2 separate regions of the Homo sapiens genome follow, and region 2 is linked to region 1. The links come from fine-mapping of genetic effects on gene expression. A gene starts in region 1. The other region holds a variant in brackets. All regions are shown on one strand. Distances are from middle to middle. Region 1 holds the start of ADAMTS15 (ADAM metallopeptidase with thrombospondin type 1 motif 15). Region 2 has its middle 39 kb from the start of ADAMTS15.

Region 1 (5,372 bases):
GGTGAGAATAGCTGGGCTGTGATTGGGGCAGGGGGAGCACTAAGTGGGAGGGACTTCCTGTCTCAGGTCCCTGCCATCTTGACTGACATGCTGCAGCCCTTGCCAAAACCCATGGGTCAGAATGAAAGTAAAGTGCCGTTGAAAACCTTGCAATCCACCTTTAAAACTGCCGGGTGTAGTAAAACAATTGCTTGCCCCAAATAAATGACTTATCATTGCTGTTGGTTGTCTGCGTTTCTCTTTAATTATAGGCCCTCTTTGAACGCTCAAACACACAGGGCCTTTGTAAGCTTGAACTCCCTGTCTCACACACAGTCCTCCCATACCCATACACTCTCTTTCATTTGCAGAGTATAAACACCCATCTCTCACTCATTCACATAATGAATTTCAGCTCCTTGTGTCCCAATCAAGGAGAGGCCTCACTGGAATTATGGGCATCTGAGCCATCTTCATGTTCCAAGGCCCCAGGGGGCGCTTCCAAGAGTGGATCCTTTATGGGGAGAAGATAATGGGCAAAAAGTGCTCTTCACTGATGGACCAGTCCCAGCCTTTTCTCTCCTTGGACAATAGAGTTCTTCCCTTGAACAGCCACTTCCCTAAAAAAAATTCCAAAATTCTCCCACATCATCCCCTTTATGCTTAAAATCATCACACACTCCCTTCTTTGTCCTCCCCTCTTGCAAACTCAACTCAGAGCCCTTTGGCTCCAGAAAGATTTTCTAGGTATCAGGAGAGAGTAGCAAAGCCTCCCTCCTCTCCTTGCCTTTCTCCCTTGTCAGAGAAAGAAGTTGATTCTGCGGAGAGGTAAGAAGGATCTTGAGGTCTAGAGCCTGAAAAACTCCTTGGGCTGTTCTCCAAACTAGATGGGAACATAAGGTGCGATTGCATCTTCTCCAGCTGATACTCACTCGGCCTCCTATGCCAGTCCCCAGTCCAGGGTTTGGTCAAGGGTCAAATGAGATAATTTCATGGAGGAAGCCTGGCCCGATTTTTCTACTGTTTGCTGGAAGACAGCCTCTTCCTCTTGTAACTGCAGCCCCAGAACCTGATCTCCACATCCCTGCCAGGCAGGTAGCTGTGTACAAGGGCTCATCTTCCTGCCCCCAACCCCAGCTCTGATTTGCTTATTCAGGTGGTGTAAATACTTCTACCAGGACCTATTTCAAGCCATTGTGATGTCCCTGACTGGGGAGATGCAGGGCAGCACACCATTTAATATTTCCCTCACATTTCCACCCCATTCTGCACTCTTTTCTGGGAGTTGCTGTCTCAGAGGGTTGGCGGTTCTGGTGGCTCAAGACCATAAGTAATTATCAAATACTTAGGAAGCGACGGGTTTTGAGTATTTATTACCTTTTAAAAATGTACTTTGTGGCTAGGCATGGTGGCTCACGCCTGTAGTCCCCGCACCGGGAGGCCGAGGTGGGTGGATTGCTTGAGCTCAGGAGTTCAAGACCAGCCTGGGCAACACGGCGAAACCCAGTCTCTACCAAAAATACACACACACACACACACACACACACACACACACACACACACACACAAATTGGCCTAGCGTGGTGTCGTGTGTCTGTGGTCGCAGTTACTCAGGAGACCAAGGTAGGAGGTAGGAAACCAAGGTAGGAGGATCACCCGAGGTCGGTAGTTCGAGACCAGCCTGACCAACATGGAGAAACCCTGTCTTTACTAAAAATACAAAATTAGCTGGGCGTGGTGGTGCATGCCTGTAATTCCAGCTACTTGGGAGGCTGAGACAGGAGAATGGCTTGAACCCGGAAGGCGGAGTTTGCGGTGAGCTGAGATCGCGTCATTGCACTCCAGCCTGGGCAACAAGAGCAAAACTCCGTCTCAAAAAAAAAAAAATATATATATATATGTGTGTGTGTGTGTGTGTGTGTGTATGTATATATATATATGTATGTGTATATATATGTATGTGTGTGTGTGTGCATATATATATATACACTTTGTTTAATTGTAAGTGTGTTTAGTTTAATTTTTAATAATGTCCGTGATTAACAGCTGGCTGGCAAGATTCCTGAGAACTGAAGAGTTTGCCCCAGCCCATCCAGCACACCATGGGCCCAGGGCAGACCTTGGGGCTAGGCGGTCTTGGGTTCCAGAGGGCTCCCATGCCCCTGTCCTATTGCTCTTCTGGCAATAGGACATTTACGCGGGGGGGGGGGTGGTTCTTGATTCTGGGTCTTTTAGGGGACTCTGTGATTAAGAAACAGCAGGGATGTTGCAACAGCAGGGATGAGGTGGGCCTGGGGACGGGTCAGTGAAGGGTCTTCATTCCTAGCTGCTGACCTGATCTGCCCTGAGATAAAAGACTAAGACCCAGAGAGTGAACGCTGTCCGCGGGGGCAGAAGCGAGTGAGGCGTCGGGACAGTGGGGCATAACCAAGAGCAAAACGCAAACTGAGACTTCAGCGCCGGTTTCTCGGGCCAGCCCACGCCTCCTGCCTCAGCTCAATGCCACTCCCTCCCCGCCAAGTGGCTCTCCGCTCTGGAGGCGGGACCGAGTTCTCCGGTGGCCCCTGGAGGCTCCGGCAGCGAGCTCTGGGAGGCTGGGAGGGGAGTGAGGGGAGGGGCGCTGACTGGGCCGTCCAAAGAGGAGGGGGCCTTTAATAGGCTCGCCCAGCGCCTGGCTTGCTGCGCTGCGAGTGGCTGCGGTTGCGAGAAGCCGCCCGGCACCTTCCGCTAGTTCTCGGCTGCAAATCTTCGTCCTTGCACTTGACAGCGATTGTACTTAAGCTCCCAGGGCGCGCTTTGCTTGGAAAGGCACAGGTAGGAAGCGCGGGCTGCCGGGTGCACGCTCGCCGCCCTGGGAGGAGTCTCCCTCCCTTGGCTCTCCTTTCTGGGAACTGCCGGCTGTCCCGTAGCGTTGGCGGTTCCAGAGTGCGGGCTGCACGGAGACCGCGGCAGCGGCCGGAGAGCCCGGCCCAGCCCCTTCCCACAGCGCGGCGGTGCGCTGCCCGGCGCCATGCTTCTGCTGGGCATCCTAACCCTGGCTTTCGCCGGGCGAACCGCTGGAGGCTCTGAGCCAGAGCGGGAGGTAGTCGTTCCCATCCGACTGGACCCGGACATTAACGGCCGCCGCTACTACTGGCGGGGTCCCGAGGACTCCGGGGATCAGGGACTCATTTTTCAGATCACAGCATTTCAGGAGGACTTTTACCTACACCTGACGCCGGATGCTCAGTTCTTGGCTCCCGCCTTCTCCACTGAGCATCTGGGCGTCCCCCTCCAGGGGCTCACCGGGGGCTCTTCAGACCTGCGACGCTGCTTCTATTCTGGGGACGTGAACGCCGAGCCGGACTCGTTCGCTGCTGTGAGCCTGTGCGGGGGGCTCCGCGGAGCCTTTGGCTACCGAGGCGCCGAGTATGTCATTAGCCCGCTGCCCAATGCTAGCGCGCCGGCGGCGCAGCGCAACAGCCAGGGCGCACACCTTCTCCAGCGCCGGGGTGTTCCGGGCGGGCCTTCCGGAGACCCCACCTCTCGCTGCGGGGTGGCCTCGGGCTGGAACCCCGCCATCCTACGGGCCCTGGACCCTTACAAGCCGCGGCGGGCGGGCTTCGGGGAGAGTCGTAGCCGGCGCAGGTCTGGGCGCGCCAAGCGTTTCGTGTCTATCCCGCGGTACGTGGAGACGCTGGTGGTCGCGGACGAGTCAATGGTCAAGTTCCACGGCGCGGACCTGGAACATTATCTGCTGACGCTGCTGGCAACGGCGGCGCGACTCTACCGCCATCCCAGCATCCTCAACCCCATCAACATCGTTGTGGTCAAGGTGCTGCTTCTTAGAGATCGTGACTCCGGGCCCAAGGTCACCGGCAATGCGGCCCTGACGCTGCGCAACTTCTGTGCCTGGCAGAAGAAGCTGAACAAAGTGAGTGACAAGCACCCCGAGTACTGGGACACTGCCATCCTCTTCACCAGGCAGGTGAGTTGATCTGCCGTCACTTTGCACCCAGATAGTCCCGTTCTTTAGGGTCACCTCCCCTAGCGCTCCAAATCCCCTTTGTATCGTGCAATGCCTCCGAGTTTAAACCTCGTTGATCTCTTCCGACTCCAACTCTGTGGAGTTTCCAGGGAGAGCCCTCTCCCACGCTCCGCGGAGCGGCGGCTCACGTGCATCTGGGCCATTGGAGGAGAGCCTGCGCTTTCCGAAGGTGTTGGCCTGGCGCGGCCAATCAGCGCCTCCTGGATCAGGCGCCGAGGGGCCGGAACCCAGGAAGTTGCCGCCCCGGAGCTGCAGTTTGTGTCCAAGACCGATAGGAGACGCCGTGAGGATGGTGTTGGAGAGGGCGGGAACGGCCCACCCCTATTGTATGGGCGGCTGAGTCTTCTCGGACACCTCCTGAGGTCTCCTTTCAAGGGTTGTAGAACTGAAGGTGATCCAAGGTCAGCGCTTGCTACATTTCTCTCGGGTAACACGTTGTCCCCTCTCTGTACTGGGCCTGGAAAGCCTGGATTGGGGTGGAGGGAATCATTGAGAGATTTTGTGGGTTGCAGTGACAGGCCAGACTCAAGTACTGCGAGCATCCCTCCTTCACTGCCGCTTCTCCTACAGACTTCTCTGCTGGGCATGGTCCAAGAGGCTTCTAGACCATTCTGAGCAGGCGGTGTAGTTAGGGCACCTGTTTGGAGCTGAGACTGTTTCACTTGGAGTTTCAAGTGGAGTTTTACTTGGAGCTGAGTTGGGAAAATCTCTTCCAATTTTCCTGTATCCTTGCTGTCAGAGGGTGACCCGTTTGCCCAGATGTATACTACAGAGCAGAGCGGGCATGCTTGCTCCTGCTCCCAAGTCACTAAAATTCCTATGACCACACTTGACTTCAGGGCTCTAGCTTCTGCCCTTGCTGGGGTGGAAGTGGTGTGAGCTTAGTCAAGAGTATTTGGAGATTCCAGCTGTAGAGTTAGAAGGAAACTGAGTATTGGGATTAGAAAGATGGACCCAGCCCAGGAAGCAGCCCTGCCTTTTGCAAGGCCTTTCCTGATATTCTATGTCAAAGAAGCTACAAATCTGCAAACGTTTAGATTCACAGGTGTTGGAGTGATTGGGCACTGAGGAGTATTTGGATTCTTGAAATTTCTCAGATACAGGAGGCTGGGAGGAAAAGAGCCATCCAAGTGAGCCTCTTCTTCTGATTTGGGGGACTGTGACTTGAATCTGTGCCATGCTCTTTTTTTTGGTTATTATCATAACCACAGCACTCTGGGGATGGCGTGGAATCCTTGGTTACCTGTGGGGCTCTAACTCTCCACTGTTTCCAAATGGTCACTCAAAGTTGGACTGGCGCACACAGTCTGGAGCTGGAGTCTTCCACAGTAACCCATTTGGCACAGCTAGTCCCTTCCTGGAGTCG
Region 2 (5,372 bases), 39 kb after region 1:
ACATGTGGAAAGATATATGCTGAATGTTCAACAGTGAAAATTTTGAGAAAGTGGGGGCCATGCTGGTGATAGGGATGTGGCGGTATAGGAATGACCTCTGGTGATTTCCCTCCATTTCTTTACCGTATGAATTTCTTTTGTTTTATGCTTTATTTTTGGTATTAGCTTAGTGATGAAGAGCACGCACCTGGAGTCAGATTGTCTGACTCTTGATTTGAGCACAGGCTCAGATCCTGACTTTGCTACTTTGGAACAGCTTTTCTAGATCTCTGTTTCTGCATTCATAATGGAGAAAATAATAAGATTTGTATGATAGATCAGATAACGAATGGAATGCATTCATTGGCACAGTGCTTGGCACCTAGTAAGACTGATGAATATTAGCTACTTTTATTACCATGGAAAGGCAATAGACAAGGAAAAAAGCTCTTACATGCAATTTATGTTAAGAAGTATGGCGTTCTTAATCCCAGAGTGTTGTTAAATCTTGTTCAGTTTAATTGAACAAATAATTGAGATTCTACCGTTTATGCAAGGGACTGCCCTGAAACGTGCAGAGAGGAATGAGGAATAAAAGTAGTTAGACCAACGTTTACTTGTAAATAACTTCACAATAGGCAGATACAGCTTCGTCTATAAAATAACCCTAACTCACAGGGCTGTTGCGACTGCTTAATGAAGAAATGTCTGTAAAGCAGATATTAGTAAGAATTCAAGACACAGCAACGTTTTTGTTGTTATATTCGCCTCTCTTTTGTAATAAAACCTACCTGGAAAATTAAATCTGGAAGGCAGCTCAGGAACTACAGATATAGGAAGAATTACTTAAGGGAAGTGTCACCAAGCCACGCAGACACTGGCTCATTCTAGATGTCTCTAGAAGCAGACAGGAATACCTGTCATGGCTAGGTGTTGTCTGCAGCACCAGGTGGGAAACTGACAGGTTTCCTCCTCACTATTCCTTTTTGGTGACCAAGAGCTTCTTTATAGCTTCACCACGGAGACAAGTGACAGCTTCTTAGGTTATTGTCCCCACCCAAGAGATTGGCTTCTTTTTGGCACTTGCTTCCCGGTGGCATGGATTATTTCTGAAAGGCACCTGTAGATTCTTGTCCCTTTCCCCGGGTCTTGCAAGACAGTTTTCTTTGTGGGTCCCTGGTAGCCCACACTGACACTTGGTCAGTGACACTGTGGCCACTACATGAGTAGTGATGGTGCTGGCCCATCCTGGGCTCTGCACTCTTGGTCTCATGCGTGGGCCGGGCCCCTGTCTGTGTGTCCACGGTGCGTGCCCACCCTGACGGCACCTGCTGGCGGCTCGCACCTCAGAGCCTGCGTGGGCCGCGGCTGCACCCGAGTCCTCTGCTTCATCGAAAGAGACTGACTTGGCAAGCCCAACTTGACAACAAATTAAAAAGAATGCTCGGGCTAGACATGGGGGACTGTTTTATTTCATTCTTTCCTTTGGGGGATGTCTTGTGGGATTGACTTTCTTAGTGAGAGAGATGAGGAGAGAGGAACATATACTTGCGGGATTTGTGCCAGAGGCGGGGAGGTGGGAGGAGTCTGGGGAAAGGATTACAAGAAGGGCCACGAGGAGCAGGGACTGAGGGAGGGGCTCCCGGGTCTGGGGTGGACCCCACCATTGGGGGAAGCAAGCGGAGGGAGAGCCTCGAGGGCAGCGTCCCATCTGCAGGGGTGCGCGGTTGGGGGCGGTGGGCATCTGGGAAGAGAGGTTGAGGCGCAAGAATCAGCTCAAGGATCCAGGTCCAATCCCCAGTTCCAGGCCCTGTGAACTATGCCTGACCTCCAGTGACGGTCGCTCCTGCTGGTGCTTTGGCCTCCTTATCTGTAGAGGGAGGTAATAGCAGTACCTGGCTGACAGGCTTGCAGAGGGCGTGTAGAGCACCGAGTGCCCGTTGTCCTTGTCACCCAGGTGTGCAGTGCAGGTGAAGGCAGCAGCAGTCAGGGCGCATGGGCACGGGAAAGGGGATCCTCCCAAACCTTATCCCTTCCCGCCTCTCACGTCTTGCCTTACTCAGGCAGCTTCTTAGAAGACAACGTTCCCTCCAGCAAGGTCACTTTTCCAACGCCCCTGGCTAGGGAGGCGGCACCTCCTTGAGCATCAGCCACCAATGTCCCCTCGGTGGGGTCCTGGCTCTTTCTGGATTGGATCTTATACGCTCTGGACACGCAGGCCCGGCTGGCAGAAAAAAGGGCCTCAGCTGCAGCGGTCACGGGTCACAGCAGATCACCCCTCGCGTGCTGGGCCTCTCCCTGCAGGGCACAGGCCCCAGCCTCTCAGCTTTCTGCCGGGTTCGAGGCCCGGCCCATCTGGGACGTTCATGTTGGAAATATGAAGTGTGACTTCCCTTGCCTGGGGACGCCTGAGCCAACCCAGGCTGGGCTTATCTCTTTACTCAACACAGTGTTTGTTTGAGGACAATCAAAGTATGTTCTCTTTCTGCTTTCTTCCAAGGGAGGAAAGAGCAAAGCCGGCTGCTACCCCGGGGCAGGGGCTGCCTGGCTCAGCGTCAGATCTGCGCTCTCTTTTTAGCCTCTGATCCCGGC[C/G]TACGCCTTTCTTGGGCCAGTCTATGGAATTAAGCATACTCAAGCTCAGGGCTCTGCAGCCGACAGCATCTCTGAACTTAGCTCTGTGGGGAGAGTTCATCCCCACCCTGCGCCATGACTCCCTCACTCCCCGGTCACAACCCTCCATCTCCAGCACGCTGAAGCCCTTTCTCCACCCCAGACTGCAGCCGCAGGCTCCTTCTGGCTGGGCCACCTCTTCATCCCACAGTGTCTGCAGCTCCCTCTGCAAAGCTAACTTGCCTGTCTGCAGGCGAGAGGCCTTGGCTTCCCTAGGCCTCTGGTTTCCGCCTTTCCTCCTGTTCCTGCTCCTTCTCTTTCCTTCTTCCCATTCCAGACCCACCAGTCCCTAGGGCCAGCACCCCATTCTGCCTGCCCAACTCCAGGGAGGGCCAGAGCCCCTGATCTCCCTCTAGCTCCCACCTCCACTGAGGGTCAAGGTTTCTCGTTGCAGGCATGGAGGGAGCTAAGCCCAGCCACTGGAATGGGAACAATCAACTCATTGTTGGAGATGCTTCTGGGGTCATTCAAAATCCACAGGTCACTGGGTGCCCTCAGCCAGGACTGGAGGACAAGGTCTATGTGTGAACTCGGGAAAGCCACATGGGGCCTCATGGAGTCTCACTGGCAGCCATGAGCAGTCAGTAACCCCTGGCTCGTGCTTCACAGGGCCCAAATCACTTTCCTCAGGAGCCCGCATGAGAAATGTTTTGAAACATTTTTACGATGACACTCAAAGATGCAAAAGCAGAGAGAAATGAACAACCAAGGCCCAGGCGCTCATCAGCCCACTTCCTGCTGTTGTTGTTTCCTCAACATCATGCTCCCTTCCCTGTGTAATACTCTCTTTTTTTAACTTGCAGATAGTTGATGACCTTTTAGATGAATTTATCACGTGACCCTCTGCTACAATAAACAGTAAAACTATGCTGTTATGTTTTATCATGGCCTATGCTTTGCCCTCAGGAGTTGTGATCTGTTTTAGTAAAGACCTCAATTCAATGGCAAAGTATTGTCAGAACAGCCCCGCTTCATGCCAGATTGAAAATAGTTGTTTTAGGCAGGCATTTTCCTACATCTAATCAGCCAACATTAAATAATGACGTGACTGGCTAGTTTCTGCAGCTGCTTTGTGCCGGGTGTTGGCTGGGGCCTAGCTCTTTACTGCCAGTCCTTTCTGACCCTCTAGCGGAAGCAGGGCTCCCCTAGATGAGAAACTCTTCAGCAGCCTCCCTGATTCTGTGGTGATGTAGCAGGGGATGTTGCCCAAAGTGACATTCACTGGCCTTTTTAAAGGAATGACACCGTAATTCCTTCTGGAAGACGGCTCCGGGGAAGGGTGTGTGTTTTTTGATAACTGGTATAATCTCTTTTTCTAACAATAAGAACTATGAACACCATCGAGTTTTGCTTTTTGCCTTGGCAACCAGGAAGCTTAGTGCTAAATTTAGGGCTCAACTGAGTGACTGTTTCACCTGCGATTCCAGTTAACTTATCTCCCCCATTTCCTTTATAATTTCTAATTTCTCCCTGTTATCTTTATGGGCATGGAGGTTTTATTGTACCCACCCTTCACTTTCATTTCTTTAAGCTTCAGAGTGGGAAATTAAAAGCAAAAGCAAATAGACTACAACTGCACATTCCCTGTGATCCATGTCCATAGAGCCTTGTTCGTGAGAAACCCAAAGGGGTTAGAGTACTAGCCCAAGATCACACCATCAGTGATGAGAATCAGACCTTAGTTTACACAGTGCATGGACGCTTTATAATCCATGCTTTATACTTTTAAAAGTCTTCCTCCTATCTCGTCTTAATTTATTCTTGATTTATTCTTTCAACAAATACTCACTTCTCACTTTATTTGTAATATACTAGGCACTGTGGACCAATAAAGATAAAACACACACTTTTGCCTTTAGGGAATTTACAGTTTAACAGGGAATATCAGAGTGCTCATCTAATTAAAACACAAGATAAAAAGTGTGGGAATGTTTTAGATAAAATTTATTGAAGTTGAGGGGAGGAAGGAGTTATTTGAAGGTAAGGAATGAGGACAGACTGTGAAGATGGTTGACATTTACACTGATTCTAGGAGAGGGAAGGATAGACATAGGGATCTTTTATTCTTACTATTGTCCCCATTTTACAGAGGATGAAATCAAGACAGAGGGAGGAAGATTTTCTCTATTCACCCAGTTGGACATTTTTACTGTTTTAATCATCCCTTCTGCCTGCCCCCACCATCAAAGGCTTTAGGACAAGCGAAGCCTGGAGTATATTTGTTCTTAGGTGACAACTACAGTCATGCACCGCGTAACAAGTTTTCAGCGAATGACAGTCCACATGTTCAATGGTGGTCCCATAAGATTGTAAAGGAGCTGACAAGTTCCTATTGTCTTGTGACGTAGCCCTCCGAACGTTGCAGTGCAAAGCATTACTCATGTGTTTGTGATGATGCTGGTGTAAACAAACCTACCGCACTGCCAGTCGTATAAAAGTCTAGCACATACAATAATGTACGGTAAATAGTGCTTAATAATCATAAGTAATGACGATGTTGCTGGCTTACGAATTTACTATACTATACTTATTATCATTAGAGTGTACTCCTTCTACTTATAAAAAAGTGTTTACTGTAAATCAGTGTCAGGCAAGCAGGTCCCTCAGGAGGTATCCAGAAGAAGGCATTGCTGTCATAGGAGATGACAGCTCCATGCCTGTTACTGTCCCTGAAGACGTGCTGCAGGATGAGCTGTGGGGGTGGAAGACAGTGATATTGATGA

What was found. PIP is the estimated chance that this variant, and not a neighbour inherited with it, causes the effect.
Region 2: its variant is the best candidate, but not a certain one, in a credible set for the expression of ADAMTS15 in lung (TOPMed, PIP 0.75).

Annotation. Positions count from the first base shown.
Region 1 is chr11:130,445,985-130,451,356 of GRCh38, forward strand. It overlaps ADAMTS15 (ADAM metallopeptidase with thrombospondin type 1 motif 15), which reads left to right and starts at 2,661. Exons shown (of 8, transcript NM_139055.4): 1 at 2,661-3,946. The coding sequence starts at 2,990.
Region 2 is chr11:130,484,898-130,490,269 of GRCh38, forward strand. No RefSeq gene overlaps it. Among named protein-coding and RNA genes, the nearest start is that of ADAMTS15, 39 kb to the left of the region's middle. The variant C/G (reference allele first, on the strand shown) is at 2,572.